4 separate regions of the Homo sapiens genome follow, and regions 1, 2 and 4 are each reported to be linked to region 3. Evidence: microRNA targets listed by miRTarBase, many of them from high-throughput screens and not tested one by one. Region 3 holds a microRNA gene; each other region holds the end of a gene's coding sequence.

Evidence for each region. Region 3 holds the annotated microRNA hsa-miR-6845-3p (CCUCUCCUCCCUGUGCCCCAG, at 4,692-4,712, shown strand). A microRNA usually pairs through its seed, bases 2 to 8, with sites in the 3' UTR of a target mRNA and lowers its output. Matches are read on the target gene's strand: a 7mer-m8 pairs with bases 2 to 8, a 7mer-A1 pairs with bases 2 to 7 and ends in A, and an 8mer does both.
Region 1: miRTarBase lists GALP as a target of hsa-miR-6845-3p. Seed matches in the 3' UTR shown: 7mer-m8 at 1,169-1,175 and 7mer-A1 at 1,193-1,199.
Region 2: the mRNA of MFRP is a reported target of hsa-miR-6845-3p. Seed matches in the 3' UTR shown: 7mer-A1 at 2,132-2,138 and 7mer-m8 at 2,529-2,535.
Region 4: the mRNA of GJB1 is a reported target of hsa-miR-6845-3p. Seed matches in the 3' UTR shown: 7mer-A1 at 5,368-5,374.

The regions. Positions count from the first base shown.
Region 1 is chr19:56,184,556-56,191,667 of GRCh38, forward strand. It overlaps GALP (galanin like peptide), which reads left to right. Exons shown (of 6, transcript NM_033106.4): 6 at 660-1,220. The coding sequence ends at 715. It overlaps ZSCAN5B (zinc finger and SCAN domain containing 5B), which reads right to left. Exons shown (of 5, transcript NM_001080456.5): 4 at 6,282-6,432; 5 at 5,131-6,020. The coding sequence ends at 5,272. Among named protein-coding and RNA genes, the nearest start is that of ZSCAN5B, 9.7 kb to the right of the region's middle. RefSeq lists a cis regulatory region at 2,346-2,944.
Region 2 is chr11:119,335,231-119,342,342 of GRCh38, reverse strand. MFRP (membrane frizzled-related protein) reads left to right here. Exons shown (of 15, transcript NM_031433.4): 12 at 359-486; 13 at 571-1,648; 14 at 1,903-2,159; 15 at 2,495-3,401. The coding sequence ends at 795. It overlaps RNF26 (ring finger protein 26), which reads right to left. Exons shown (of 1, transcript NM_032015.5): 1 at 5,034-7,112. The coding sequence ends at 5,919. It overlaps C1QTNF5 (C1q and TNF related 5), which reads left to right and starts at 1,460. Exons shown (of 3, transcript NM_001278431.2): 1 at 1,460-1,648; 2 at 1,903-2,159; 3 at 2,495-3,401. The coding sequence starts at 1,946. The coding sequence ends at 3,012. RefSeq lists a silencer at 2,242-2,341.
Region 3 is chr8:143,835,356-143,842,467 of GRCh38, reverse strand. MIR6845 (microRNA 6845) reads left to right here and starts at 4,652; the gene lies at 4,652-4,712. NRBP2 (nuclear receptor binding protein 2) reads left to right here and starts at 1,495. Exons shown (of 18, transcript NM_178564.4): 1 at 1,495-1,762; 2 at 2,239-2,361; 3 at 2,438-2,539; 4 at 2,643-2,732; 5 at 2,919-2,959; 6 at 3,060-3,154; 7 at 3,273-3,296; 8 at 3,368-3,451; 9 at 3,530-3,585; 10 at 3,693-3,788; 11 at 4,713-4,845; 12 at 4,959-5,061; 13 at 5,169-5,219; 14 at 5,294-5,429; 4 more. The coding sequence starts at 1,634. The coding sequence ends at 6,806. RefSeq lists enhancers at 148-877, 878-1,608, 4,920-5,647 and a silencer at 1,034-1,593.
Region 4 is chrX:71,223,355-71,230,454 of GRCh38, reverse strand. GJB1 (gap junction protein beta 1) reads right to left here. Exons shown (of 2, transcript NM_000166.6): 2 at 4,939-6,763. The coding sequence starts at 6,747. The coding sequence ends at 5,896. Among named protein-coding and RNA genes, the nearest start is that of GJB1, 3.7 kb to the right of the region's middle.

The DNA of each region.
Region 1 (7,112 bases), not on the chromosome of region 3:
TCACTGCAAGCTCTGCCTCCTGGGTTCTCGCCATTCTCCTGCCTCAGCCTCCTGAGTAGCTGGGACTACAGGTGCCCACCACCACGCCTGGCTAATTTTTTGTATTTTTAGTAGAGACGGGGTTTCACCATGTTAGCCAGGATGGTCTCGATCTCCTGACCTCGTGATCTGCCTGCCTCGGCCTCCCCAAGTGCTGGGATTACAGGCATGAGCCACTGCGCCCAGCTCCTTCTTCAATCCTAACTCAATTCCTGGAGACGCCATGTCCTTATTTCAACAGCACTAATTCATTTCAAAAGCATGTACTGGACAATACTGGGTATGATACGCTCCCTGAATTCACTAATTTCCATCCTCACCTCGATTACATTCTGACTCTTGAAAACACCCACCATCACCATGTGCCTTCTTAAAATGTGGGCGGAAAGGGAGAATATGTGGGCAGATGAAAGTAGAGAGAAGGGGCCAGGCACGGTGGCTCACGCCTGTAATCCCAGCACTTTGGGAGGCTGAGGTGGGCAGATCACCTGAGGTCAGGAGTTCAAGACCAGCCTGGCCAACATGGTGAAACCCAATCTCTACTAAACATACAAAAATTAGCTGGGTGGGGAGTGATAGTGAGAAAAACCATTCAAAGTTTACCTCTTTCTTTCCCACAGATCTGGGCATGCTCAGCATGAAAATTCCCAAGGAGGAAGATGTCCTGAAGTCATAGATGTCTTCAAATCCCTGTTCCTATCCTTCTTCTCCAGCTCCTCCTGCTCCCTCTGAAACCTTTTCTAGGTACCCTATGCTGAGACTAAGATCCTGAAGTTAAATACCCAGGTCTCATGAAGACATTGTAAAGCATTTGAATTATTCTAAAAAATTTCTGGAGTTTCTTAGGTTTTATTGATTCATCCTTGAAATCAGTATAATGTGCTATTAATGGAACCAATAGTAATTCGAGGACTAGTTGGGAGATTCTGGGGTAATCAGGGAATATTCCTGCAACACATTTAAAGGAATTGTGTTCTTTTGGAATCATCCCAATTATAACACGAGCTATTGCATAATACAAATAACCCTCTTAAGTCTGAGAGTCTGTGTCTTTATTTGAAAAGATTCTTCAAATTGCGTACTTACTCCTCCATATTCTTTCAACCCACATGAGTCTCCTCGAGAAGTGAGGAGAGGCAGTTTGGAGCAGAATGGAGAGAATAAAATGTTTCTTGTCAAACACTCCATTTTTTCCCTTTTAATTAGTCTGGGAATTTTTTTAGGGGTAGCAGAATCCAGGATGATGGGGTCAGGTGTGGGACTGGGAAATCCAGGATGACAGAATCAGGTGAGGGACTGGGGAAAATATAACCTATTGGAGGCAATCCATTTTGGATTATTGTTTTGCTGAAAGTTTTACTTTCATTTTGGGTTTGAGGAGTCACAGGAAAAAGAAACCACAGTGTTACACTGAGGCAGGGGAATCGCTTGAACCCGGGAGGCAGAGGTTGCAGCGAGCCGAGATTGTGCCATTGCACTCCAGCCTGGGCAACAAAGTGAGACTCAAAGTAATTAATGACCAAAATGAGTGACTGAGACACTGTCAGTCTCCATCCATCGAGGTTTATGAAATCGGCTGTGGGGCACGTCCAGGGAAAGGTGAGCCACAGACACCTCTGTGGCTGTTTTTCTGAAGTTTTCAGGATATTTACTATTTATACATTTCCTTAGACGGGGGCAGGCATAGAGGCAGAGGGGTGGGTAGGTGGTGAGCTGAATGGTTAAATTCCTATCAGTCTTTAGTTAGTGCCCAGTAAATCTACATTTAAAAAAAATATATGTTTCTATTTTTTATTTATTTATTTATTTTAATTTTTTTTTTTTTTTTGAGACGGAGTCTCGCTCTGTCGCCCAGGCTGGAATGCAGTGGCGTGATATCGGCTCACTGCAAGCTCCGCCTCTCGGGTTCACACCATTCTCCTGTCTCAGCCTCCCGAGTAGCTGGGACTACAGGCACCCGACAACATGCCTGGCTAATTTTTTGTATTTTTAGTAGAGACGGGGTCTCACCGTGTTAGCCAGGGTGGCCTCGATCTCCTGACCTCGTGATCTGCCTGCCTCGGCCTCCCAAAGTGCTGGGATTACAGGCATGAGCCACTGTGCCCGGCCTATGTTTTTATTTTTATTTTTTTGGAGACAGAGTCTTACCCTGTCACCCAGGCTGGAGTACAGTGGCGCAATCTCAGCTCACTGCAACCTCTGCCTCCCGGGTTCAAGCAATTCTCTTGCCTCAGCCTCCTGAGTAGCTGGGATTACAGGCGCCTTCCACCATGGCCGGTGAATTTTTGTATTTTTAGTAGAGACAGGGTTTCACCACTTTGGCCAGGCTGGTCTTGAACTTCCGACCTCAAGTGATCCGCCCGCCTTGGGCTCCCAAAGTGCAACGTTTTACATAAGATAAAGTGCATGTTTGAAGGCAAAAAAGGGCGTAAAGGGAGTAAAGGAAGCACCAATTACTTAGACATCTTTGGGTAGGTGGAGGAATGACTGAGCTCATCTTATCTTTGTTCCACGCCTCAGAAGATAAGCTAGTAATGGACATTGTCAGTGTGGAATAAAACAGACCTGAGTTTTAGGAGCTAGACTTACATTGTAGACCTGAAGTTACAAAGGGTGAGTTCTTGTTTATGGGAAGTCAGCAAAGAATTTCCTTATGAATGATTTGCGGGGGCATTCGTGGATGCCCGGGGCCTCTTCCCTTTCCGTGGGGATCTGGCTGATGCCAAATGCCAGCAACTGCTGTCCAATTGGAAGAGGGCGCTGCCTGACTCAGCCACCAGGCTGACCTCTCCTTTTGCATAAGGAGTTTGGGGAATCCTGAGGTTTTTCTTCGCATAATGAATAAGTATTAATATTGTTAATACTTATTCATTAATATTGTAATTAATTATAATTATTACAATAAATTACAATAAATAATTAATAAGTAATTAATATTAATTAATTACTATTCATGGCATGGTGGCTCACGCCTGTAATCCCAGCAGTTTGGGAGGTCGAGGCGGGAGGATCACTTGAGGTCAGGAGTTCGAGACCAGCCTGGCCAACATGGTGAAACCCCATCTCTACTAAAAATACAAAATTTGCTGGGTGTGGTGTCAGGTGCCTGTAATCCCAGCTACTCGGAGGCTTGAGACGTGAAAATTGCTTGAACCCAGGAGGCAGAGGCTACAGTGAGCTGAGATTGTGCCACTGCACCCCATCCAGCCTGGGTGATAGAACGAGACTCAGACTAAAAAAATAATAATAATAAAAATAATAATTATACAGAGTCAAATGTCGGGGATTCAAGGAGGCAGAAAGCAGATGAGTTCTCGCCCTGCTGGAGACTCACGTCCCTGGGAGAAGCAATCACTTAAAGTGATTAAGTTAATACGAGAGGCTGCAGTGAGATTTTTTTTTAGACAGGGTCTCACTCTATTGCCTGGGCTGGAGTGCAGTTGGGAGATCTTGGCTCACTGCAGCCTTGACCTCCTGGGTTCAAGTGATTCTCCCACCTGAGCCTGCTGAGTAGCTGGGACTACAGACATGCACCGCCATACCCAGCTAATTTTTGTGTTTTCAGTAAAGATGGGGTTTTGCCATGTTGCCCAGGCTGGTTTCTAACTCCTGGGCTCAAGTGATCCGCCTGCCTGGGCCTCCCAAAGTCCCGGGATTATAGGTGTGAGCCACCACACCCAGCTTTGCAGTGAGGTTTTGAAGCAGTGTTATGTGATGGGATTCTTTTTTCTTATCAAAAAATAATTTACTGGGCAAGTACGGTGATTCACGCTTGTAATCCCAGCACTTTGGGAGGCCAAGGTGGGCAGATCACTTGAAGTCGGGAGTTCAAGACCAGCCTGGCCAACATGGTGAAACCCCATCTCTATCAAAAAAATTTCTACTACATCTCTACTACAAAAATTGCCAGGCGCGGTGGCTCACACCTGTAATCCCAGCACTTTGGGAGGCCGAGGCATGTGGATCACCTGAGGTCAGGAGTTCGAGACCAGCCTGGCCAACATGGTGAAATCCTATCTCTACTGAAAATACAAAACTCAGCCTGCTACAGTGGCAGGCGCCTGTAATCCCAGCTACTCGAGAGGCTGAGGCAGGAGAATCGCTTGGACCCGGGAGGCAGAGGTTGCTATGAGCCGAGATCTGACACTGCACTCCGGCCTGGGTGACAAAGCTAGACTCTGTCTCAAAAATAAATAAATAAATAAATAAATAAATAAATAAATAAATAAATTATTGCCTTCTAATATTTTTTTAGCAGCCCAAGTCCAATGATTGCATTAAAAAAATTTGTTGCATCTATGCCATGAATACAATATTTAGGCAGTCATGTCAGCTTTTCTTTTATTTTTCTCTTTAGGATAGGGCCTTACTGTCACCCAGTCTGGAGTACAGTGATGCAATCATGGCTCACTGCAGCCTCAACCTCCTGGGCTCAAGCAATCCTCCCACTTCAGCCTCCCCAGTAGCTTGGATTACAGGTGTGCCATCATACCCGGCTAATTTTTATTTTTATTTTTGTAGAGATGGGGGTCTCACTGTTACCCAGGCTGGTCTCGAACTCCTGGCCTTAAGTGATCTTCCTGCCTCAGCCTCCCAATGTGTTGGGATTACAAGCATTAGCCACTAGGCCCAGCCTTACTTCTAATTTTTATTCTTATTTTTAATACATCTCCTTTTGTTTAAGGATATATACCAAGTGCCTAGAATATCAGCTGATAAGTGTTCCATAAATGTCTGTGGAATATTTGTTAGACTTATTATTATTTTTTGTTATTTTTTAAAGTTATTTATTTTATAGAGACAAGGTCTCACTCGCTTGAGCCCAGGTTGGTCTTGAACTTTTTCTTTACTTATTTTTGGGGTGGAGTCTCACTGTGTTGCCCAGGCTGGACTTAAACTCCTGGACTCAAGCAAACCTCCTGCCTCAGCCTCCCCAGTAGCCGGGATTACACATGCGTGCCACTGTGCTTAGTTTTTTTCTTATGAGATATTGGAAAATGATGAGACTTTGCTCATTGGAAGAGAAACAGCAACAGACACTAAAATAAATCTGTAAGAAAGCAACAGACATAATCAAACAGAAAACAAAACTCATGGGGGAGGATAAATATTTATTCAAACATCCGGGCAATTCCTACCAAGTGCTTTATGTGTATATGTCATCTGGTAACATTGGAGAAAAACCATCATTCACTGTCTCTTGGGGTGGAGGATGTGGACCTGACTCTGGAATCACTGGGAGGTGGTTTCCCGGTGTGTTTTCAGGTGACGCTTGAATGTCCCCAGCTGACGGAAGGCCTTTTGACAGGTGGGACATTTGTAGGGCTTCTCTCCGGAGTGGGTGCGCTGGTGAACGTTCAGGTTCCCCTTGTGGCTGAAAACTTTGCTGCAGTATTTACATTTAAACGGCCTCTCCCCGGTGTGGATCCTCTTGTGGCCCTGTAAGGTGGACTCGTGGGCGAACCGCTTTTGGCAGACGTCACACATGTAGGGCCTCTCGCCAGTGTGGACTCGCTGGTGAACTCGGAGGTCTGAGGGCTGCAAGAAGCGCTTCCGACAGAGATCACATTGAAAGGGTCTGTCTCCTGTGTGTGACCTCCTGTGGATGCTTAGCTGGGAAAAATACTTAAATGATTTATTGCACACGTCACATGCAAAGGGCGGCAGGGCCTTGGCTTCTTGGCCATCTGGGTGACTGACCGGGCCCGCAGGGCCTGGGGAATGAACTGGATTGATCTCAGCTTGTCCTGGGGATTCTCTGTTGCCCACAGGTGTGGCTTCTCCTTGAGGCTCTTCTTGGGAAATGGAGGAGGCATCTGGTTTGCTTCTTTTGGGACTGCTCAGATTCAGAGCATCTCCTCTGTTCCCGCTGTGAGTCAAAGCTTCTCTCTCCACAACGCAGGCAGAAGGTGTGTCAGCATCCACATTTTCCACAGAGGCTCTTTTCTGGGGTTCCTTCCCCTCCTTTGCTCTCACCAGATCTGGTGGAAGAAGGGATTCCACACACAACAGTTAACAAAGCCGATTTTCAATACACCAAACTCATTGCAACCAAACACTGACCTTGGCTGAGAACTTCCCCTCAACCTCAAGCCTAAGACATTGGACTGTAGGTCTCTGGAAAGTGGAGGAGAGATTTTGGCAGCTGATCGCCAGCCCCAGGGGATGATAATGCTGGGCCCCCAGCCCCGCACCCCAGAAGAGAGGGACTAACCCCTGTGGATCCAAGTCTTCATACTCACTGGGACTCTTTGGAAGCTGAGGCTCTGGGGATGACAGTCCTGGGTTCTCTTCCCTGTTTTCCTTCAGATCCTTCTCCAAGGTCTGCTTGGGTCTCGGAGAGTTTGGGTCACCTGTTACGTCAATACTCTTGTGTAGCAGAAAGTCCTCTCCCTGAAGAGGAAAAACCAAGAGCAATGACTGCCGTGTCTATACTGGTGGAAGTAGGGACATGTCTGTCCCCTCCTGACTGGACACACCAGACTTCCCATGGACCACCCCATCACCCCAAGTAAACATCACCACCTCATTTCTGCGTCTGTCCCTAATCTGCACCCTCCATATTCTAAATCAGCTCCTTTGCCTGGCGGTTTTCACTGTTTGGTTCTCTGAGAATATTTCTCCCCGCCGTGCCAATGTCTCCCTGCCCCTGACGCTGGAAGAAGCATGACTCTAGGTGGAGGCCCCTAACCCCTGGCACCATTGGCATTGGGGCTGCATCATCCTCCTGGAGGGGGCGCTCCTGTGCAGAGCAGAGACCCCGCCTCCACCCTCTAGATGCTATCAACACCCCACCACCCCTGAGAATGCCAAACAAAAATGTCCTCAGACATTGCCAAATGTGTCCTTAAAGGCAAAATCACCAGTTGAGAAACACTCCTCAAATTAAGAAATCAACAGTCTGAGAAAGTGGGTTCCTTGCTGAATGACTTCATGAAATGTCTTTGCGGAAACTGGATGGGGTAGGGACCTTCAGTTCATTCATCTGTGCCAACTGCCTCCCTCACTTCACTGAGACCATTTCTTACCCACCCCCCCACCCTAAATGCTAAAAGCTCTCATGGTGGAGAGAA
Region 2 (7,112 bases), not on the chromosome of region 3:
TGTCACCCAGAGCCCCTTTCCACAGCCCACACCAAAGATGAAGGCATCCTCTTACACAGAGCAGGGGGTTTCTTCCAGATGCCCAAGCAGTCCCTGCAAACGCGGGTGCCCCATGTTCCCTGAGATTAAAGACGTGCCTGCATGATGCCCAGGGCTGGCAAGCGATGCTGGAGCAGGCTCTCAGGGATGGCAGGGATCCTCAGAGTGTGTACAGCCTGTCTCTTTGTTATCCTCTTGCTTCCTCACAACCACCCCCATTGGACCCATGTACACACAGGACCGAGCGATTCGGTGACTTGCCACAGGCCACAGAGCCAGTGAGCAGTCCCCACAGTGGCCCTCCCCTCCACCCCTGCAGAGCTGGCCTGTGAGCCTGTCCAGGTGGAGATGTGCCTCGGTCTGAGCTACAACACCACAGCCTTCCCTAACATCTGGGTGGGCATGATCACCCAGGAGGAGGTGGTAGAGGTCCTCAGCGGTTACAAGGTCTTCTGGGTGGAGGGAAGGAGGGCGGGCCTGGGAGGGGAGGAGCCTGGGAGCAGGTGCCTGAAGGCCACTCTCCCTCCGCAGAGCCTGACAAGCCTGCCCTGCTACCAGCATTTCCGGAGGCTCCTGTGTGGGCTGCTTGTGCCCCGTTGCACCCCACTAGGCAGTGTTCTGCCCCCTTGCCGCTCTGTCTGCCAGGAAGCGGAGCACCAGTGCCAGTCTGGCCTGGCACTACTGGGCACCCCCTGGCCCTTCAACTGCAACAGGCTGCCAGAGGCAGCTGACCTGGAAGCTTGTGCCCAGCCCTGACCCTGAAGCCGGCCCCTGCCCTCTTCCTGCCCGTCCTCTTTTGCCGGTCAGGGCTGGCACGCAGGGGAACAAAGGAAGGAGCATCAGCAGGGTCTCTACCCATCCTTCTCTGGGGCTCCCAGGGAGGGGGAAGAGAAGTCCTCAGCTGGGGCTCATGGGACCCTACCACCCTCCCTGCTCCTTCCTGTCCCTTTACCGGTCCCAGGCTGCTGACTGGCCCCACACTGTGCCACCGGACAATCGAGACCACTTCCCATCCAGGCCTCTTCCCCTTTCCATCTGCTTTTTCAGCTTCTCCATCGCCTGCCTTCTGACCTTTTCCTTGATTCAACAAAAATGTACTGAGCATCTATTCATGTGGCAGGCCCCTGTCCTAGGCCCTAGGGATCCAACTGGCTGTCTGCCTCTAGAACTCTCCACCCTCATCTCTCTGCGTATTTCTCCCTGAAATGGGGTCTGGTCCTTGGTCTCTGCCACTGCCCTGCCTCTCCTCTGGCCCTGGGAACAGGAGGTGCCCTGTGTGTCCGTCTCTCGAAGTTCTGCCTCTCTGTGCCCAGCTCAAGTCTCTCTCCCCCTCCTTTCTCCCCCTAAACTTTGGCCGGCCGCCGGGCGACACCACGAGTTATTTCCCAGCTATTTCCCGGTCCGGGAGCTCTTGGCCCCTGAACAACTGGTTTCCTCTTGGAGTCTGGGAGGAGGAAAGCGGAGCCGGCAGGGAGCGAACCAGGACTGGGGTGACGGCAGGGCAGGGGGCGCCTGGCCGGGGAGAAGCGCGGGGGCTGGAGCACCACCAACTGGAGGGTCCGGAGTAGCGAGCGCCCCGAAGGAGGCCATCGGGGAGCCGGGAGGGGGGGTGAGTCTGGCGGAGGAGGGGAAAGGGGCTGGGGAGGGGACTGTGGGAAAGGCTGGCGCGGGCCGGCGGTGGGAGGGAGGGCTGGCCGCTCCCACCCTCTCGCGCCTGCCTGTGCTCTCCGGATGCTCGGCCCTGCGAGCGCTCAGCCTCAGGGGCACGGCAGTGGGGTGGGGACCGACTGGGCCGCGCCGGGGTGGGGAGAGAGGCAGGTCCCAGGATTCTGGGTCCCGACTCCAGTCCTGCCTGGTCCACAGACTGCGAGAGGACCCCGGCGTCCGGGCTCCCGGTGCCAGCGCTATGAGGCCACTCCTCGTCCTGCTGCTCCTGGGCCTGGCGGCCGGCTCGCCCCCACTGGACGACAACAAGATCCCCAGCCTCTGCCCGGGGCACCCCGGCCTTCCAGGCACGCCGGGCCACCATGGCAGCCAGGGCTTGCCGGGCCGCGATGGCCGCGACGGCCGCGACGGCGCGCCCGGGGCTCCGGGAGAGAAAGGCGAGGGCGGGAGGCCGGGTAAGAAGGCACCGCCGCGGCTATCGGTGGCGATGTCCGAGCAGGCGCGGCCGCAGCTCCAGCTCCCGGTGTCCGGGACTCGGGTCTCCCGCCAGGGGGCGCCACTCCCCGCGCTTTGCAGCCCTGAGCGGGGGAGGGGCCCAGGCGGCGGGAGCCCCCTTGGCCAGCCCCCCAGATCTGCCCTGCGGGAAGGGGTGGAGGAGGTACCCGTGCGGGAGGAGGCGCTGGCCGAAGCTCAGGCAGGGGCGGGGAGGGGTACGGTGACCTTAGAGTCGCCGCCCCGCTGCGGGCTGAGCCGCCGCTACTCTCACCCTGCCGCCCCGCTTACCCCGCAGGACTGCCGGGACCTCGAGGGGACCCCGGGCCGCGAGGAGAGGCGGGACCCGCGGGGCCCACCGGGCCTGCCGGGGAGTGCTCGGTGCCTCCGCGATCCGCCTTCAGCGCCAAGCGCTCCGAGAGCCGGGTGCCTCCGCCGTCTGACGCACCCTTGCCCTTCGACCGCGTGCTGGTGAACGAGCAGGGACATTACGACGCCGTCACCGGCAAGTTCACCTGCCAGGTGCCTGGGGTCTACTACTTCGCCGTCCATGCCACCGTCTACCGGGCCAGCCTGCAGTTTGATCTGGTGAAGAATGGCGAATCCATTGCCTCTTTCTTCCAGTTTTTCGGGGGGTGGCCCAAGCCAGCCTCGCTCTCGGGGGGGGCCATGGTGAGGCTGGAGCCTGAGGACCAAGTGTGGGTGCAGGTGGGTGTGGGTGACTACATTGGCATCTATGCCAGCATCAAGACAGACAGCACCTTCTCCGGATTTCTGGTGTACTCCGACTGGCACAGCTCCCCAGTCTTTGCTTAGTGCCCACTGCAAAGTGAGCTCATGCTCTCACTCCTAGAAGGAGGGTGTGAGGCTGACAACCAGGTCATCCAGGAGGGCTGGCCCCCCTGGAATATTGTGAATGACTAGGGAGGTGGGGTAGAGCACTCTCCGTCCTGCTGCTGGCAAGGAATGGGAACAGTGGCTGTCTGCGATCAGGTCTGGCAGCATGGGGCAGTGGCTGGATTTCTGCCCAAGACCAGAGGAGTGTGCTGTGCTGGCAAGTGTAAGTCCCCCAGTTGCTCTGGTCCAGGAGCCCACGGTGGGGTGCTCTCTTCCTGGTCCTCTGCTTCTCTGGATCCTCCCCACCCCCTCCTGCTCCTGGGGCCGGCCCTTTTCTCAGAGATCACTCAATAAACCTAAGAACCCTCCTACCGGCTCCAGCCTTTCTTCTTTAGTGGTGGGGGCTCCCTGTTTCTGGGATCATGGTGTGGAGGGGGTGTTCAGGCAGAAGGGAGGGTTCTTGGATGAAATAGAGATATGCGGCAGATATACAAGAAGCCGGCCCAGGGGAATGAGAGGCTGCTCCACAGAGCCGCCACCTAGGTTGTGAATGGGAGTGTCTGACAGCGGGATGCCCTCCTGGTGTGGGGCTCCATCCATCCTTGAGAAAGGGAGCACCTTTTTCTAATTCAAAGATGCCAACTGAACCACGTAGGGGCTGCCTGCGCCACACATACCTCTGCCCTCATCCAACAAAAAAGAGCCGAGGACTTTCGTCCATGGCTGCTCCGGCTGCTTGCCTGCCCCCGATGAGCAGAAAGCTATTGCTCTGTAACCCGAGTGAGTGGCGTCCTCGGGCGTCTAAAGATAAGCAGTTTCTGAGATGACCACAAGGGGGTGCCCTGGCCCCAGAATGCCGCAGGGATCCTGGGTAGCTTGAGCTCCTGACTATGGGGGGGTGAGGGAGAGGAGGGGTATTGAGGTCGGCCAAAGGAATTCCAGATGCGGATGGAAGAAAAGGGGGGGTCCTTTACTCCCAACTCAGGAAGTTTATCTTCTATCATAAAATGTTTATCTCCACATTAAACAGAGACTGGAAGGAGCCAGGCCTCCCCTTGCTCAGCTCCCTGTCCCGGATTGAGGGAAGGAAAGAGCAAGTGCCAAGCCCTCCCAGTTCTGAGGTGGAGATGAGGAGCCCTCCCCCACTGTGCTGGGCATAGCCTGGGTGGGCCGAGCCACTGTGTCTGAGGCTAGCCACAAAGCCCCTCAAGGCTCCGCCCACCCCTGGAGCCCACCCCCAACCCAATGACTAACAAACCAGGACTGCCCAGCCCCATCTGCACAGCCTCAACCCAAGGAAGGGGGGGGGCCTCTCCTCAGAGTTTCTTTCTGAGCTACCGGCACCCCCTTCCTGAAGGCAGTCCCAGGCACTGTGGTCCCAGACAGAACATACAATTATGGGGGAGTGCCCCTGCTCTTCTGCTGGTCATGTGAGGGCAGATACGGCCAATGGGGACTCAGCCCCAAATGTGAGCCAGAGACAGGCCTTAGGCAGCCTCCACCAGGAGATCCCGCAGCCGCACTCCAGCCCAGCCCTGCACCAGACCCCCATGCCAAGACACACAGAGACACACACCAGCTCCTCCTGGGATCCGAGGGCAGACTGGACTCCAGGCAGGAGGAACCCCATGCTCCCTCCCAGGAAGACTGGCCCGGAGGAGGAGCTGGGAAGGTTGACTCAAGGGGTGAGATGGTTCACATTCCTCTCTACAAGGGCTTAATTTGGGAAAAAACAGAAAAAATAGAAGGCTTTTCGAAAGCCATGTGTTGCGAGAGGGGACAAATCAGAAGGGATGAGAGCTCACAGAGCCATGCCTGGCATGCACTCTCCCCATGACATAGTCTTCCCAGCCTATCTTAGCTCCTTCCCTGTCCCCCCTCTAAAGCCCAGGTACCCCCACAGCCCACACTTCTGACTCTGGCGGGGCTGAAGGACCCTGATGCAAGGTCTGTTGCCTTGACCAACTGCTCCCTTGCAGGGATGCACACAGAGACTGTCAGAGCTGTCAAGAGAACTTTATTCATTGGAAACTGGGCCAGAGACCCCTCACGAAGCTGCAAGCCCCTGGGCCCTGGGCCCTTCTGTATTTGGACCCTAGTGAAATGTGCACAGTCTGCCCTCTCCATGCCAGGGAGAGACAGAGAGGAATGCCATTTTTCTGTGTGATGTGGGAGTGACAGGGGAAAGAGCAGAAATCCGGTTATCCCTCCTGAGACTCCCAGTGAGCTGGGGTGCCACAGGGCACGTGGCCCCAAAGTCAGGTGCAGATGCATCCCCCATCCCAGGGGTAAACTCCTGAGACTGGCTTTTGGATCAGGTTGGGAGGGAGCCTCATCAGACGATCACAGGCAGAGGTGGCTCTGAGGGCACCCGAGAGATACTAACCCCAACGCCTACCAGGGCACAGGGGCTCTGGCTGAACACAAAGGTTTAAGATCATCCGAAGGCCCCTGAGTTGCCAAAACACCCAAATGACACTGATGTGTTGTGGCCGCAAAAGCTGGGGAGGAAATGTGAAGGAGGCAGGAAAAGGACCTATAGATCTCCAACAGAAAAACCAGAAGCAGACAGGGGTAACCCCAGAGGCATCTGGGTGGGCCCTGGGCAGGCTGGAGGAGAGCCCACAGCAAATAGTCTCAGGGCCCTTGCATAGTGACATACTCACCACCCTCAGCATCGAAGGGACCCACTGGGTAAAGAGAAGCCATGTTATCCTGCCCCCACCCAGATCATAGTCTTCCAACTCAATGTCCTGGATGTATGGCAGGATGGCCACAGGGGTAGGAGGGGATTCAGACCAGGACCCGGAGATGAGGTGTTAATGCTGTCCTAGCGTGAGTGCCTGCGTGGAGCATGGAGGGGTGGGCAGGCAGGGAAGGAGGCTTCAGAGGTAGACATTGAGGGTCTGCAGGATGCCCCGGCGGCAGAGCGGGCAATTGCGGTGGTAGACGGGGTGGCGCATCAGGATTTCAGTGCAGGCCTGGCACAGGCACAGATGCCGGCAGGGCAGGAGCAACACTGTCTTGCTCTGGTCCTGGCAGATGACACACTTCTTCCGCTCCTCTTGCTCCTTCAGCAATTTCCAAGGGTCTTGCCCACCTGGAGGCTCCTCCTCATTGAGCCTCTCTCGGCCCCTGACAGGTGTCACTCTGATGGTCCTGGCCTCCTCCTCTTCTGCCTCTGATCTGCGCCCCGCTTCAGGAAGAGTGTCCTGTCTCCGGGTCCTAACTGAGAATACCCTCATAGGGTCACCCTGGGGAGCTCCAGGTGCCCCTCCCCGGTTTGGCCAACTCGCCAGCTGCAGACTGCGGCTCCAGACTCGGCGCCAGGCCTCTGAGCCCAGTGCTAGGCGAGAGAGCCGCATGACATCCTCTCGAAGACGGTGGTAGGATGGCCGGGCATGGAGCTGGCTGAGTGCCTGGGTAGCCAGCCTCAGGGTGAAGTCCGGATGCAACACAGTCACCGTCACTGCCAGCACACAAGCTAGCAACACCAAGCCAGTGAGATTGACAAGCACAAAGCTGGCCAGGAGGCGGGCAGCTGAGGCCAGCAGCTCCAGGGCTAGTTGGCAGGGTGTCCAAAGGAGGATGGCCATGGCCACAGCACTGCTGGAAATGTGGGCTAGGAAGGCAGCCACTACGTCCGTCATCCTCCACAGAGGCCCGGTCACTGCATCCCACAGGGCCAGCACCAGGGAAAAGAGGTTCTGAGTGCCGATGAGGCAGATGTTGACCAGGCTGTTGATCACATAAGCCACCAGGCTCATGGCAATGGCACAGATGTCACAGGCCTGGCGCAGCAAAGCATGGCCACTGGAGACCACATTGAGGACGCCCCGGTGCAGTATCTCCCTGCTCCGCAGTGCCCCATGAGAGGCCAGGTGCCCCAGGAGCTTTAGGCTCTCTAGGCCAGAGCAGCAGCTATACAGCAGAGTACACAAGGCCTGCAAGCCCCCACATGTGAACCGGACCACGGCTTCGATCAAGGCCAGCAATGAAAGCAAGACTCCGCGGCCCAAGTGCAGAAGACTAGTCAGTACCGTGTGCGGCAGGTTGTAGACGAAGGCCAGGAGCCAGGC
Region 3 (7,112 bases):
TAAAAAAAATCTCAATAAGAAAGTTTATGAATTTGTGTTGGGCCATATTCAAAGCTGTCCTTGGCCGAATGCACCCTCTGGGCTGCGGGTTGGACAAGCTTAGCATAGAATCTGGTGTGGCCGAGGTAAACACAGACATTCAAATCAGGCAGAACATTCCAAGGGCTTAGAGGGTGTCTCCCAGGAGCTGGTCAGGGCCAGTTTCAGGGTGGAGGATTTGAACACCCCAAACCTTTACTGCAGAGGGCCTCAGCAGGATCACCTGGCATTGGTGGAAACCACACACAAGGTGCCTGGTGACCAAGGCTGGTCAGAAAAGAGAGACCACAGGGGACGCAGCAGGGCCAGATGCACCTCTGCCAAAGAAAGAAAGAGGCGTCCCAAAGGGCCAGTGCATGGAGCTGCGCGGAGGGGAGGAGCGGAGTTCCAATTTGGGCTCCAGAGAGAGAAGGTAAAGGATGAGGACCCGCCGTGAAGGAGGGAGGAGACCACAGGAAGGCCGTGGGGGCTGTGGGCTGAAGGGGGTTTTAGGTGAGAATCGGGGACAGCCCCGGTGGTCGGCGTGGCTGGAGGGTGTGCTTAGAGCGGCCTCCGGAGGGAGAGGTCGTGTGAGCCGGGTGGGCTCCCCCCTCATGGTTCCACTGTCCCATGGGAGCCAGCCGCGGAAAGGAAATGCGCGTTTGAGGAGAAAAGAGAAAATCGCCATCCTGGAAAGTGAGAAGATGGGCTTGTGGGCGGGAGGAGGCACTGGTGGGCGGGCCAGGGAGAGATTCGTGGTCACCGATCAAAGTCAGCCTGGGTCAGCCTGCTGGTGGGCCTTTCCCCCGCCCTCGGTGCCCCTTCGACCTGTCCCTTGGGGGTCGGCCGGGGAATGAGTGCGTGGCCAGGAGAGCGGGTCCCGCTTTCGAGCCCGCGGGGTCTTCTGCAGCTGGAGGGTGCCGTGGGCTTGGGGGCCCCCAGATGCCCCGGGTCTTCCCCCAGATCCTAGGGGAGCAACCGCGAGAGAAGTGGGCGCTCCGGGCTCCAGGTGTCCGCAGGGCGGGGCCTCCGAGGGGGCGGGGATTTGGGGGCGGTTCCTCTGCGCGGGGCGGGGCCTCATAGGGGCGGGGCTTCGAGGAGGTGAGGCGGGGCCTGGGGTGGGGCTTCGCGGAGGACCCTGGGAACGGGCGGGGGCGGGGACTAAAACGGGGCGGGGATTCGCGGGGGTGGGGCGGGTCCTGGGGCGGGGCTTCGCGAAGGAGGCTTGGAGGACGAGGAGGGGACAGGGCCTGGGGAGGGGCTTCGCGGAGCAGGCCTGGGAGACGAGGAGGAAACAGGGACTGGGGCGGGGCTTCGCGGGGCGGGGCCTCCGGGGGGGCGGGGCCTGGGCGCGGCCCGGGCTCGGCAGCTCTCGGGGAAGCTCTGCTCTGGCTCCGGCAGGCACAGGCGGCTCGGGAGGTGCGCGCCGGCTCCGCCCCCGGGCCCCGCCCGTCCGCCGCGCGCCCGCGCCTCCCAATTCCCAGAGCCGGGGCTGGGGCTCTAGGCTGCCGCGGCGGCTCTAGGCTGGGCTGCTGGGCGCGAGGCCAGGGCGGGCCGGGAGAGGCTGCGCCGGCGGCGGATCGCGCAGAGGGCGGTGGCCTGGGCTGGCCGAACCATGGCGGCCCCGGAGCCGGCGCCGAGGCGGGCCCGGGAACGGGAGCGGGAGCGGGAGGACGAGAGCGAGGACGAGAGCGACATCCTGGAGGAAAGCCCGTGTGGTCGCTGGCAAAAGCGACGGGAGCAGGTGGGCGCGGGGGTTGGGGCACGGGGTGACACCGCCCTCCCAGAGCGGGAGGGGCCTGGAGGCTGCGCGGGGCGTGGGGGCGCTGGGAGAGCGCGGCGGCTGGAAACCTCTCCGCGGCCCCTCGCGGCCCGCGAATCAGCCACCCCTGGACCCCTTTGGCCTGGCGCTCGCCCTGGGACTCCCTGAGGGCCAGTCTCCTCCCAGGACCACCTCCCCATGCCTCTGGACTCAGCCGCTAGCTTCCTGGGGATCCCCCTCGACCCCCTGAAACCTGCTCCAAATCCCCTTAGCCCAGCCCTTGGATAGGAGCCCTTGGCTCCTGGGGGCAGCTACCCTCCAAGCCCCACCTTCCCGCAGAGTGGCTCAGGGCCTGCAGCCCACGCTTGGGCCCACTGGAAAGGTGTGGACAGGGACCAAATCCTCACCCACAACCCTGACACACACCAGGGCACACATAACCCTTTATTCACCCCCAGGTAAACCAAGGGAACATGCCAGGGCTTCAGAGCACCTTCCTAGCCATGGACACGGAGGAGGGGGTAGAGGTGGTGTGGAACGAGCTCCACTTCGGAGACAGGAAGGCCTTCGCGGCGCACGAGGTGAGACCGCTGCCCCCTCCTCATCCTGCTTGGGTGACCACCTGCTGACCACCCAGCGACCACCCTCCCTCCCCAGGAGAAGATCCAGACCGTGTTCGAGCAGCTGGTGCTGGTGGACCACCCGAACATCGTGAAGTTGCACAAGTACTGGCTGGATACCTCTGAGGCCTGCGCGAGGGTGAGCACGGGCAAGGCCCCGGGCAGGCAGAGACCACAGCTAGGTGGGGCGGGCATGGGGACGAACCCGCAGCTGGTGGAAATCCTGAGCTCGCACCGTGCAGGTCATCTTCATCACAGAGTACGTGTCATCAGGCAGCCTCAAGCAATTCCTCAAAAAGACCAAGAAGAACCACAAGGCCATGAACGCCCGGGTATGGGGAGCGGGCTGGGGCAGCCACGGGGACAGGACGGGGTTGGGGCAGCCTCGGGGACTGGGATGGTGAGGGGGTGCCCGGCGGCCTCGGACAGGGGCTGGGCGAGGATGCGGGGCGGGCTCCGCAGGCCCAGCCGCCTCTCCTGCGCCCACCCGACCGACGGAGTCGTGCGTCCGCCGCCAGGCCTGGAAGCGCTGGTGCACGCAGATCCTGTCTGCGCTCAGGTGAGGGCCTGGGCTGGCCTGGGCGCGGCGCCACCGAGCCCCCATCTCTCCAGAGCCTCCTGACCGGCTCCTCCTACTCTCCCCTCCCCAACGTCTGCAGCTTCCTGCACGCCTGCAGCCCCCCAATCATCCACGGGAACCTGACCAGCGACACCATCTTCATTCAGCACAACGGCCTCATCAAGATCGGCTCCGGTGCTGGCGGGGCAGGGCTGGGTGGGGGAACGGGGCAGGGGAAGGTGCCTGGAGCCAAGGGCAGAGGAGTTCTGATGCCCCAGCAGCTAACTCCACTCTTTCTCCCGCCCCTTGGCAGTGTGGCACCGAATCTTCTCCAATGGTAAGTGCGGACTTTGGGGGGACGGGGTCCTGGAGAGGTCCCCGCCCGCTCAGCTCTGCGCCCTCCCACAGCACTTCCAGATGATCTCCGAAGCCCCATCCGCGCTGAGCGAGAGGAACTTCGGAACCTGCACTTCTTCCCCCCAGAGTATGGAGGTGAGTGGTGCTGGGTCCGGGTGCCCCGTGCCTACCCTGCGCTTCTCTCCTACGTGTCCTGTGCTCTCTTCTGTTCAGAGGTGGCCGATGGGACCGCTGTGGACATCTTCTCCTTTGGGATGTGTGCGCTGGAGGTACTGCCCCCGCCCTCCACCTTGTGCTCTGCCCTCCTCCTAACTGTGCCCTGCCTGGCTCACCTGTGTGGTCCCTTCCCCATGCCTGACCTGGCTCTGTGCCCCAGATGGCTGTACTGGAAATCCAGACCAATGGGGACACCCGGGTCACAGAGGAGGCCATTGCTCGCGCCAGGCACTCGCTGAGTGACCCCAACATGCGGGTAAGCAGCTTGCCCTGCCCCTCCCCAGCTGGCTCACCGTGCTCAGCTAGGGCTAGCAAGGTGCTCCAGGCAGACCTGGGAGAACATCACAGTTTGTGCAGTTGAGGGGTATACCAGCTGACTGCACCCCTCCCAAAGAGGACCTCAGTGGGAGCACATACTGGTTCCAGGCCTGAAGGCCCTAAGGGGTCAGCACATTCTAAGGACAAGAAGGCAAGAGAGACCCTCCCTCTGTGGCTGCCATCACCATGCCCGTTTTATAAAGAAACCAAGGTTCAGAGGAGATGAGTCCTTTGCCCAAGGCTTTAGAGTGAGTGGTGGAGCCAACATCTGCACCTGGGTCTGCTTCACTCCAAGTCCTTGACTTTAAGCTTCCAGGAGGTGATGAGGCTCCAGCTTGTGGGGGGACATGGTGGGTGCCAAGCAGGCAAAAAGAGGTATGGGATGGAAGCTGCATCCACAGCCCCCTCTGCTCGGAGTCTAGACTTAACTCCATGGCCTCAGGAGATGGGGGTGCCTGGTCGGGGCTGGTGGCGAGCTGGAGCCGGGCTGGGCACGGATGTGGACAGAGTGGGGACCCATCAAGGTCGTCTCCAGTGTTGGGCCCGAGCTGAGCCGATCAAAAGGCCATGGGTAGGAGGCTTGCAGGTGTGACTTTAGGATCATGGCTTCTCCCCACGATTTTTTGGGGGTCGAGGGAAGCAGAGCATGGTGCTCCAATCCCAGAACCCAGCTGTCCTCAAGCTCAGAGGACCAGGTCCTGGCCTGGCTGCTGCTGCTGGGACTCCTCCCTATGGGCATCCCTGCATGTCCTGTGTGTCCCTGAGGAGGGACATGGGGAACTCAGGGGCCACCTCTCCTCGAACTGCGGGGCCAGAGCAGAGAGCCCTTGCACACCACCAGCCTCTCCTCCCTGTGCCCCAGGAGTTCATCCTTTGCTGCCTGGCCCGGGACCCTGCCCGCCGGCCCTCTGCCCACAGCCTCCTCTTCCACCGCGTGCTCTTCGAGGTGCACTCGCTGAAGCTCCTGGCAGCCCACTGCTTCATCCAGCACCAGTGTGAGCAGCAGGCCGGCCCGGGGGGTGGCTGGGGAGGTGGAGGTTGGGACGTGGAAGGGGCCCTGCAGGACCCACGGCCTGAGCACACCGCCTTGATGCTCTTGTGGCCGCAGACCTCATGCCTGAGAATGTGGTGGAGGAGAAGACCAAGGCCATGGACCTGCACGCGGTCTTGGCGGAGCTTCCCCGGCCCCGCAGGCCCCCGCTGCAGTGGCGGTGAGCAGTCAGCACCCAGAAGCCTCCCCTCCCCACACCTCCCCTCCCCGCACCTCCCCTCCCCTCGCCCCGGCCAGCCCCTCATGTGCCTCCCACTTCCATGCCAGGTACTCGGAAGTCTCCTTCATGGAGCTGGACAAATTCCTGGAGGATGTCAGGTGAGAACTGATGTAAGGTTGGGGGCCAGGCAGCTGTCAGGCCTGAACCCCCAGCCACCCTGTTGTGTCCCCAGGAATGGAATCTACCCACTGATGAACTTTGCAGCCACTCGACCCCTGGGGCTGCCCCGTGTGCTGGCCCCACCCCCGGAGGAGGTCCAAAAGGCCAAGACCCCGACGCCAGAGCCCTTTGACTCTGAGACCAGAAAGGTGAGTCCCCTCTCCTGCTGCTCAGTGCCATCCCTCAGACCTTCTAACAGCCAGATAAGAGGTGCCCCTCCTTCTCTTAGGGCCTGCATCCCCACAGCCCAGCTCTCCTCCTGGCTGCCAGAGACCAGATCCAGGCTGACCCCCTTGTGGGGGTCATGGGGGTTATAGGACAGGCTGGGCACTCTCCTTTTCCGGGAGGCTCCCTGTCCCCTCAGATCCTTCCCCTGCATCCTGCTGCCTGCCCTGAACCTACTCCAAGCATCCTTCCTCCAGAACTCACCCGGGCTCTTCCACCCTGCCAGCAATCTTCCCCCACCCCCGCACCCCTCCCACCCCCCCCACCCCTCCCATCCCCCACCTGGTGCTGATTCCCGGACATCTATGTCCTGGTGTCTCCCCAGACTTTTCCTGCAGCACCCCCTCCTGGCCAGGGGCCTCTCTCGGTGCAGTGCAGCCAGAATTCATGTCCTAACAGGCAAACTGCCTGCTCCTGGCTGCCAGCAGAGATCATGGGAGTCCTCAGCTGACACCCAGGCTCTGGGAGGCCTGATCCCGCAGGCACCGTGCACTTCGGCGCGGTCCTGTCCCGCCCAACCTCCCTTTCCCCACGCCCACAGTTCCCTCTTTGTTCAAGTTGTTCTCTCCGCGGTGAAAGCTCCTATTCAGCCTTCAGTACCCAGCCCCTAATGTCGACTCTTCTCGAAGCTTTCCTTAGCTTGCCAAGCCACTAGCAGTGAGATGGGCTCCTCTTAGAGATTCCCCCCTTTCCAGTCTTTGCTGTCCCTTCCCGGCCCCTTTGGGGCCGCGGCATGTGGTCTTGCTGCTGGGTTTGTGAGTCCCAGCCTTCCCCCGCTGCAGGTCATCCAGATGCAGTGCAACCTGGAGAGAAGCGAGGACAAGGCGCGCTGGCATGTGAGCGGGGCCTGGGAGGGCGGCGCTGCCGTGGGGAAGGCGGGAGCGTGGCGGAGCCCTGAACCCCCAGCCGACCACGCCCCGCCGCCTCCCCAGCTCACTCTGCTTCTGGTGCTGGAAGACCGGCTGCACCGGCAGCTGACCTACGACCTGCTCCCAAGTAGGCTGGGCAGGGGACTTGGGCGGCGGGCGGTGACCCCAGGCGGCGGGTGGGCAGCGGCCTCATGCCTCGCCTTACGCCATTGCCTCAGCGGACAGCGCCCAGGACCTCGCCTCGGAGCTCGTGCACTATGGCTTCCTCCACGAGGTGCGCTGGGCGGTGCGGCGCGGCCTGGCGGAGGGGGCGCACGGGGCAGGCCGCGCCCCTCCGTCCCCCATGCCTCCCTCCTTCCGCAGGACGACCGGATGAAGCTGGCCGCCTTCCTGGAGAGCACCTTCCTCAAGTACCGTGGGACCCAGGCCTGACCCGGAGCCCCAGCCCCAGGGGACCATGCCGGGGTGCTGCCTGGGCAGGCCATGTTGGGGAGACTCCAGCACCGTGGGGCTGCCCTCCTCCATGCGCCTGGGAGCACAAAGGCCCCGGTAGTGAAGGAACCCCCCGTCTCCTGAGAGTGGGGCTGACCCTGCCTTGGGCGCCGAGGGGTTGGGGGGTGGGTGTGGGGGAGCCGTTAGGCCTCCCAGGTCCTTAGGATCAGGGTTGCCCCCAGAACCCCTTCCCATATCCTCCATTCTCCGCCCTGAGTTCCTACCCAGGCTGCCTGGCCGGGGCCA
Region 4 (7,100 bases), not on the chromosome of region 3:
CTTCCTTCCTTTTTTTCAGAGTCTCACTCTGTCACCCAGGCTGGAGTACAGTGGCACGATCTCGGCTTACTGCAGCCTCTGCCTCCCAGGTTCAACTGATTCTCCTGCCTCAGCCTCCTGAGTAGGTGGGACTACAGGCGCCCACCACCACGCCTGCCTGATTTTTGTATTTTTAATAGAGACAGGGTTTTGCCATATTGACCAGGCTGGTCTTGAACTCCTGGCCTCAACAGATCCGCCTGCTTCAGCCTCCCAAAGTGCTGGGATTACAGGCGTGAGCCACTGTGCCTGGCCTGTGTGCTTTTCTTTTTTGTGTGTGTGTGGTGGTGGTGGTGGTGGTGGTATTTTTTAGAGATGGGGTCTCACTGTGTAGTCCAGGCTGGTCTCCAAGCAATCCTCCCACCTCATCTTCTTGAGCAGCTAGGATTACAAGTGTGAGTCACCGCACCTGGCACCATATAATGTGATAAGCGCTCTTATCACATACACCACAGTCATATTGTGGGAATTCAGAGTGGAGGTCTGAATTGGAGAGTCTCTCCAAGGGACTTGATCAGCGGGGAAAGAAGAGTTGATGGCTTCACAGAGGAAACGACGTTTGAGATGAGTTTTGAATGATTAGGAGCTTTCCAGTCAAAGGAGGGAAAGGAAACCTCAAATTACCTTTGGCTCTTCCACACCCCACAACTCAGACATGAAGTCCTGTTGTAGGTTCTACATCCAAAATGTCTCTCACACCTGTCTCCTCTTCATATTCCTCTGCCACTGTCCTAGTCCTACAGGCGCCACTTGGGCTATTGCAACAGCTCCATAACTGGTCTTTTTTTTTAGAGACAGGGTCTCACTATGTTGACCAGACTGGTCTCAAAGTCTTGGGTTCAAGGAATCCTTCCACCTCAGCCTCCCAAGTAGGTGGGACCACAGGTGTGCCACTGCACCTGGCAGTACCTGGTCAATCTGTCTCAGTCTTCAATCCCCAATCCAGTCTCCATGCAGCTGCTGGCTGACCTTCCAAACACACAAGTTTGAAGGTATCACCCCCGTCATACCTTTTTTTTTTTTTTGAGACAGAGTCGCTCTGTCACCCAGGCTGGAGTGCAGTGGCATGATCTCGGCTCATTGCAACCTCTGCCTCCCAGGTTCAAGCGATTCTTATGCCTCAGCCTCCCAAGTAGCTGAGATTACAGGCGTGCGCCACCACACGGGGCTAATTTTTGTATTTTTGGTAGAGACGGGGTTTCACCATGTTGGCCAGGCTGGTCTCAAACTCCTGACCTCAAGTGATCCACCTGCCTCGGCCTCCCAAAGTGCTGGGATTACAGGCGTGAGCCACCGTGCCTGGCTTTTTTTTTTTTTTTTTTTTTTTTTTGTGATGGAGTCTCACTCACTCTGTCACTCAGGCTGGAGTGCAGTGGCGCGATCTCGGCTCACTGCAACCTCCACCTCCCGGATTCAAGCAATTCTCCCACCTCAGCCTCCTGAGTAGCTGGGACTATGGGCATGTGCCACCACGCCTGGCTAATTTTTGTATTTTTAGTAGAGACAGTGTTTCACCATGTTGGCCAGGATGGTCTCGAACTCCTGGCTTCAAGTGATCTGCCTGCTTTGGCTTCCCAAATTGCTGGGATTACAGGCAACAGCCACTGTGCCCAGCCAATTCCTGTCATATCTGTAGGGTATTTTTTGTCTGTTTTATTTGCCCCTTGCTGGAATGTCCCAATCCATTTTCCATTTGACCCTGTACATTCTCCCTGGCCTACTCCAGGAATCAACAGGAGCTTAGCTTGGTACGATTGTGTAGCCCCTTCTGCACCATAGGCCAGGTCTGGCATTTAAGTACTTTGGAATCAGTAAATGGAGCAAGCATTCCCCTCTAGCCCCCACTGTGTGCACCCAGGCTATCTGATTGAACATCTGAACCAGTTTGTGGTTGCCATGCCAATTCTCTATGGATACCACAGCTTGCTTTCAAACCCCAACTCAGCTGGCTGGAGGCCTTGATTACTCTCCTAGTTCATCTGCCTCTGTTCCTTTGCCCCCCAGCTCCTGGCATCTCTGTGCATAGACACCTCTAAAAGATCATAGACATTCCTAAAAGGACCAGTTCCATGAGATACAGCATGCAAGAGCTTCCTGTTACTATGCCTTTTCTGCCCCCTGATCAGACCCCTTGAATATTGACCCTTAAATGAATCATGCTCAGGTTTGCAACCTCTCTTGGACTTTGCTGTTTGGACTGGTGTCCACTCCCTGGGGGAGCCAACACTATTATTGCCAAATTGTTTTAACTAGCTTCAGCCTACCTGAACCAGCCTCACTCCTTTCTGGCTCATTGAGAATTCTAGCATGTCGTAAGGCCATGGTCTCAGTGCTTATGATACTATCTTACCTTACTTTACCGTTAGTTCATAACCAGCTTTTGAACACATCTTGTCTGATTCTCAAAAAAGTTCTGTGAAAGAGGTAGAGAGGTTATTATTAACTCTCTATTGGAGATGAGGAAACAGACCTGGAGAGGGTAAATATCACGTGTCCAAGGGGACAGAGCTCATCAGTGGAGAACGAGGTCTCCTAATTCCAGTGTCCTCTTCATAACCCAGGTCACTCAGCACATTGAATTTCTACTGCGTGGCAGAGAGCATGCCTCATTTGCCTCTGTGTCTCTCTCTTATACTCTTGTGACAGAGCCTGATTTGAAAAGTCAGTCTTGGAGTCAGTCTAACTCTGCCTCCTACCTCCCTGAGACATTGTGTCCACCAGCTCCCCTCAAGGTTCCTTGGGCCTGTTCCTACCTGGTTCATGGGACCCAAGAATCCTGTGTCCCCCACTTGGGCTGTAACACCCAGCCTGATAGCTTTATTGTCCCACCACTGCCCCCTGGAGAGGAAAGCCTTGATATAGAGTTGGAGCCTCTTTCCAAGGGGGATTGGTAGAATCTTTGAAGAGAAACTACATTTCTGATGTGATGGTGGGGGTTAGCATTTCTCAATGTGGAGAGGGCATGAGGTTCCCTGCTTCCGACCAGGACCAGGATGGAATTTTAAAAAGAAAATCTTTCTCCTGATGGCATGTTGTATGGAGAGGGGATGTGTTTGTTGTATTGTTGTGGGTGAAAAGGATGGATTTCGATAAGAAAAGGAATCTCTCTCACCGTGAGGGGGTGGGGACCTCTCCTCTGATGGAACATAATGTCAGTTTCTAAGGGGAAAGGAAATTTCTTGTAGGAAAGGAATGTTCCTCTTTTAAGGGAGAGGAAGCTCTCTCTCAGGGATTACTAAGTGTGGTGGAAAGGAATACTTACTCTCTCCTTTCTTTCTTTCAATTTTTTAAAAATAGAGATGGGAGGCCGGGCGCGGTTGCTCACACCTGTAATCCCAGCTCTTTGGGAGGCCGAGGCGGGCAGATCACGAGGTCAGGAGATTGAGACCATCCTGGCTAACACAGTGAAACCCCGTCTCTACTAAAAATACAAAAAAAAATTAGCCGGGCGTGGTGGCGGGCGCCTATTGTCCCAGCTACTCGGGAGGCTGAGGCAGGAGAACAGCGTGAACCCGGGAGGTGGAGCTTGCAGTGAGCCGAGATCGCGCCACTGTACTCCAGCCTGGGTGACAGAGCGAGACTCCGTCTCAAAAAAAAAAAAAATAGAGATAGGATCTTGCTATGCTGTCCAGGCTAGTCTTGAACTCCTGGCCTCATGCAATCCTCTTGCTTCGGCCTCTAAAGGTCTCATTTCCTTCCCTCCCTCCCTCCCTCTCTCCCTCCCTCCCTTCCTTCCTTCCTTCCTTTTCTTTCTTTGTTTCTTTCTTGACAAGGTCTCACTCTCTGGCCCGGGCTGGAGTGCAGTGGCGTGATCACAGCTGACTGCAGCCTCAACCTCCTCCTGGGCTCGAGTTATCCTCCCACCTCAGCATCCGAAATAGCTTGGGACTACAGGCACATGCCACCACACCTGACTAATTGTTTTATTTTATTTTTTTTGTAGAGATGGGGTCTCTCTATGTTGCTCAGACTGGTCTCAAACTCATGGGCTCAAGTGATTCTCTCCCCTTGGCCTTCCAAAGTGCTGGGACTACAGGCATGAGCCACCACATCCAGTCTTCCTTTTTTTTTTTTCTAAAGGAGAAATCTCAAATAAAGAAAACTTCCATGCTTTCTCTCCAAAGAGGAAAAACTGTCTCAAGGGAGAACAATTCACATGAGATTGTGTCTGATTTTCTCTCCCTTTCTGATATCCAGCACTTCCTACATGGAGTCCACATACTCTGAGAGGGAGTGGCAAATAATTTCTCCTGTTCGGAGGTAAGGAAGCTGAGGAGGCAAACTTGCCATGGGGGAAACTTTTACTCTGAGAGGCTATTTGTGGGGGCAGTGACTCTAAGGAAACCCCTGTGAGGCTGGGGGAAGATAATGCACTGTTACTTGGGGAAATCTTTCAGGAATCCCAGAAGCACAGAGTGTTGAAGGGAGCTGAGAGATGTGCTGGGCCAGTTCTCGTTTGCTCATAAGGAAGCTGAGGTTCGGGGAAGGGAATGCCCCGCTACTAAGTGACAGCATCAGGACTCCAGCGCAGCTTTTCCAAGTCTCAGCCTGGGGCATTTCCTACCACAGCTGACAGGGGAGGGTGATGCTGGTGAGGAAACTGCTGCTATGAAATGTTTGACCTGTGTGGAGGCATCTCTGGAGTGGGAAGCATTGATTCCTGAGAGAAGGAAACTGGGAAAGAGGATGAAATTAGGGGCTCTGTCCAGCTGAAAGGGGTCAGGGTCATCGTGCAACCCAACAGGTGGACTGTGGGACATCAGCTTGTAGGGGATGCTGAGTTTGGAGGGAGTAAGGAGATAGGTCTCCAGATGTGCGGGGGAGGGGCTCTCACCGAGGTACCCAGGGAATTGTGCCACTCTCTGGGGCAGGAGAAATTTCCCAATCATTTCTTGTCTCTTCAGAGGGAGTTGTCATTTTTAATCTTTTCAAAATCAGAGGAAGGAGGTATGTAAACTAAATCCCAATAAAGCTGTTATTAGACAATGAAAAAGACAAGAACCACAACAACAAAAGCAACAGGGAGGAATGGCTCCGGGGCTGGCTCTGCGGCCCAGAAGTACAGTGATTTCCTCATTTGCAGCTTCAGCTACTCAAGTAACTACTTCTTTTGCCCTGTTCCTTTCTTAATCAGTAAAAAACCAAGGCCAGCTCATCCTGGGGGAGGTCAGAGGTTGCAGGAGAAAGAACTTGACAAACACACAAGCCACCTCTTCATTTACTGTAAAATCCTGTTTAATGTGTAACATTTCAGGCAGAGAGAGGCCTTGGGGACTAGAGGCAGAGGTGGCCTTGACCAACCCCTGCTCCAACTTATCTGCCTGCTTCTCTCTCCCTAACTCCCTCACCCCAGACACCTCCTCCTTTTCCTTGTGGCCAGCAAGCACTATTCCTCCTTTACTAGTGCTGGCCACCCTCCCTTCTCCACCCACATGTCCACAGCACCCCTGCCCTCTGCTCCTCTTACCCACATCCCTCCTCACTGATGTGACTCCAGAAACAGGGTATCTGACAGCACAGGGTTAAGATTAGTTTCATAATTGGAGACGCTGTCGGAGCATCCCATCTCTTGTACCCAGTGGTCCCAGAGAGAGGGAGAGGGAAGAGGGAAGGGTGCAGGCAACAAGGGCAGCCCACACTCCCAGTAACCTTGAGCACTGGCATAGGTGGCCTCTAGCTCCCCACCCCTCCAGCTCCTCAAAAGGAAGGCCCCGGGAGGAAGGGAAGTAGCCAGGGAAGGAAGGTTTTGATCGAGTAATCCCCAGCAGGCAGAGGCCTGTGCACCGGCAGGGGAGAAGGAGGGGCTCGCCCAGGGCAGGGTCGGGGGTGGGATGGGAGGTTGCCTGGTATGTGGCATCAGCAGGCCGAGCAGCGGTCGCTCTTTTCAGCCAGCCCAGCCCCGGTGCCAGGGCTGCGGCGCAGTATGTCTTTCAGGGAGCCATCCTGCTCACTCAGCAGCTTGTTGATCTCATTCTGCTTGTATTCAGGTGAGAGGCGGTGGCCGAAGCCCGAGCCCTTGCGGGAAGGTGGATTGGAGCGGCGCTGGGCTCGGCGGGCACAGGCCCGGATGATGAGGTACACCACCTCGGCCACATTGAGGATGATGCAGATGCCAGAGGCAGCTAGCATGAAGACGGTGAAGACGGTTTTCTCGGTGGGGCGGGACACGAAGCAGTCCACTGTGTTGGGGCAGGGGTAGACGTCGCACTTGACCAGCCGCACCATGGCATAGCCAGGGTAGAGCAGATAAAAGACATACATGAAGACGGCCTCAAACAACAGCCGGAACACCACGCTGATGACATAGGTCCACCACAGTGTCCCTGAGATGTGGACCTTGTGCCTCTTCACCTCCTCCAGGTGTAGGGGGTCCCCATGGCCCTCAAGCCGTAGCATTTTCTTCTCTATGTGTTGCTGGTGAGCCACGTGCATGGCCACGAGGAGAGCTGGGGTGGAAACTAGGATGAGCTGCAGGGACCACAGCCGCACATGGGAGATGGGGAAGAATTGGTCATAGCAAACGCTGTTGCAGCCAGGCTGGAGTGTGTTGCAGATGAAGGAAGATTTCTCATCACCCCACACACTCTCTGCAGCCACCACCAGCACCATGATTCTGAAGATGAAGATGACCGAGAGCCATACTCGGCCAATGGCAGTAGAATGCCGGTTCACGCCACTGAGCAAGGTGTACAAACCTGTCCAGTTCATCCTGCCTCATTCACACCTGCAAAACACCAGCCATGAAGCAAGCTGTCAGAAAGCTGGGGTGGAAAGTCGGGCGCCATAGCACTGCCTGCGCACCCCCCCTCAACTCTTCCAAGAGCCAGTAGCAGGAAAGGAAGGATGGTCATGTCTTTCCTCGTCACCCCATCTCCCTTGCCAGCTTCTCCTCCTCCTCACTCACTTGACTTGACCTCCCTGAGCCCCATCCCCCTTCTTCGCTTTCATCCAACATTCTTTTCCCGCCAGCCCCTTTCTTTGCCAAGCCCATCTTGTTCCGATATCAGCCATCCCCTATGGCTCCCTGTCCCCTAGCTCCTTAACTCCAGACCTGGGGCAAA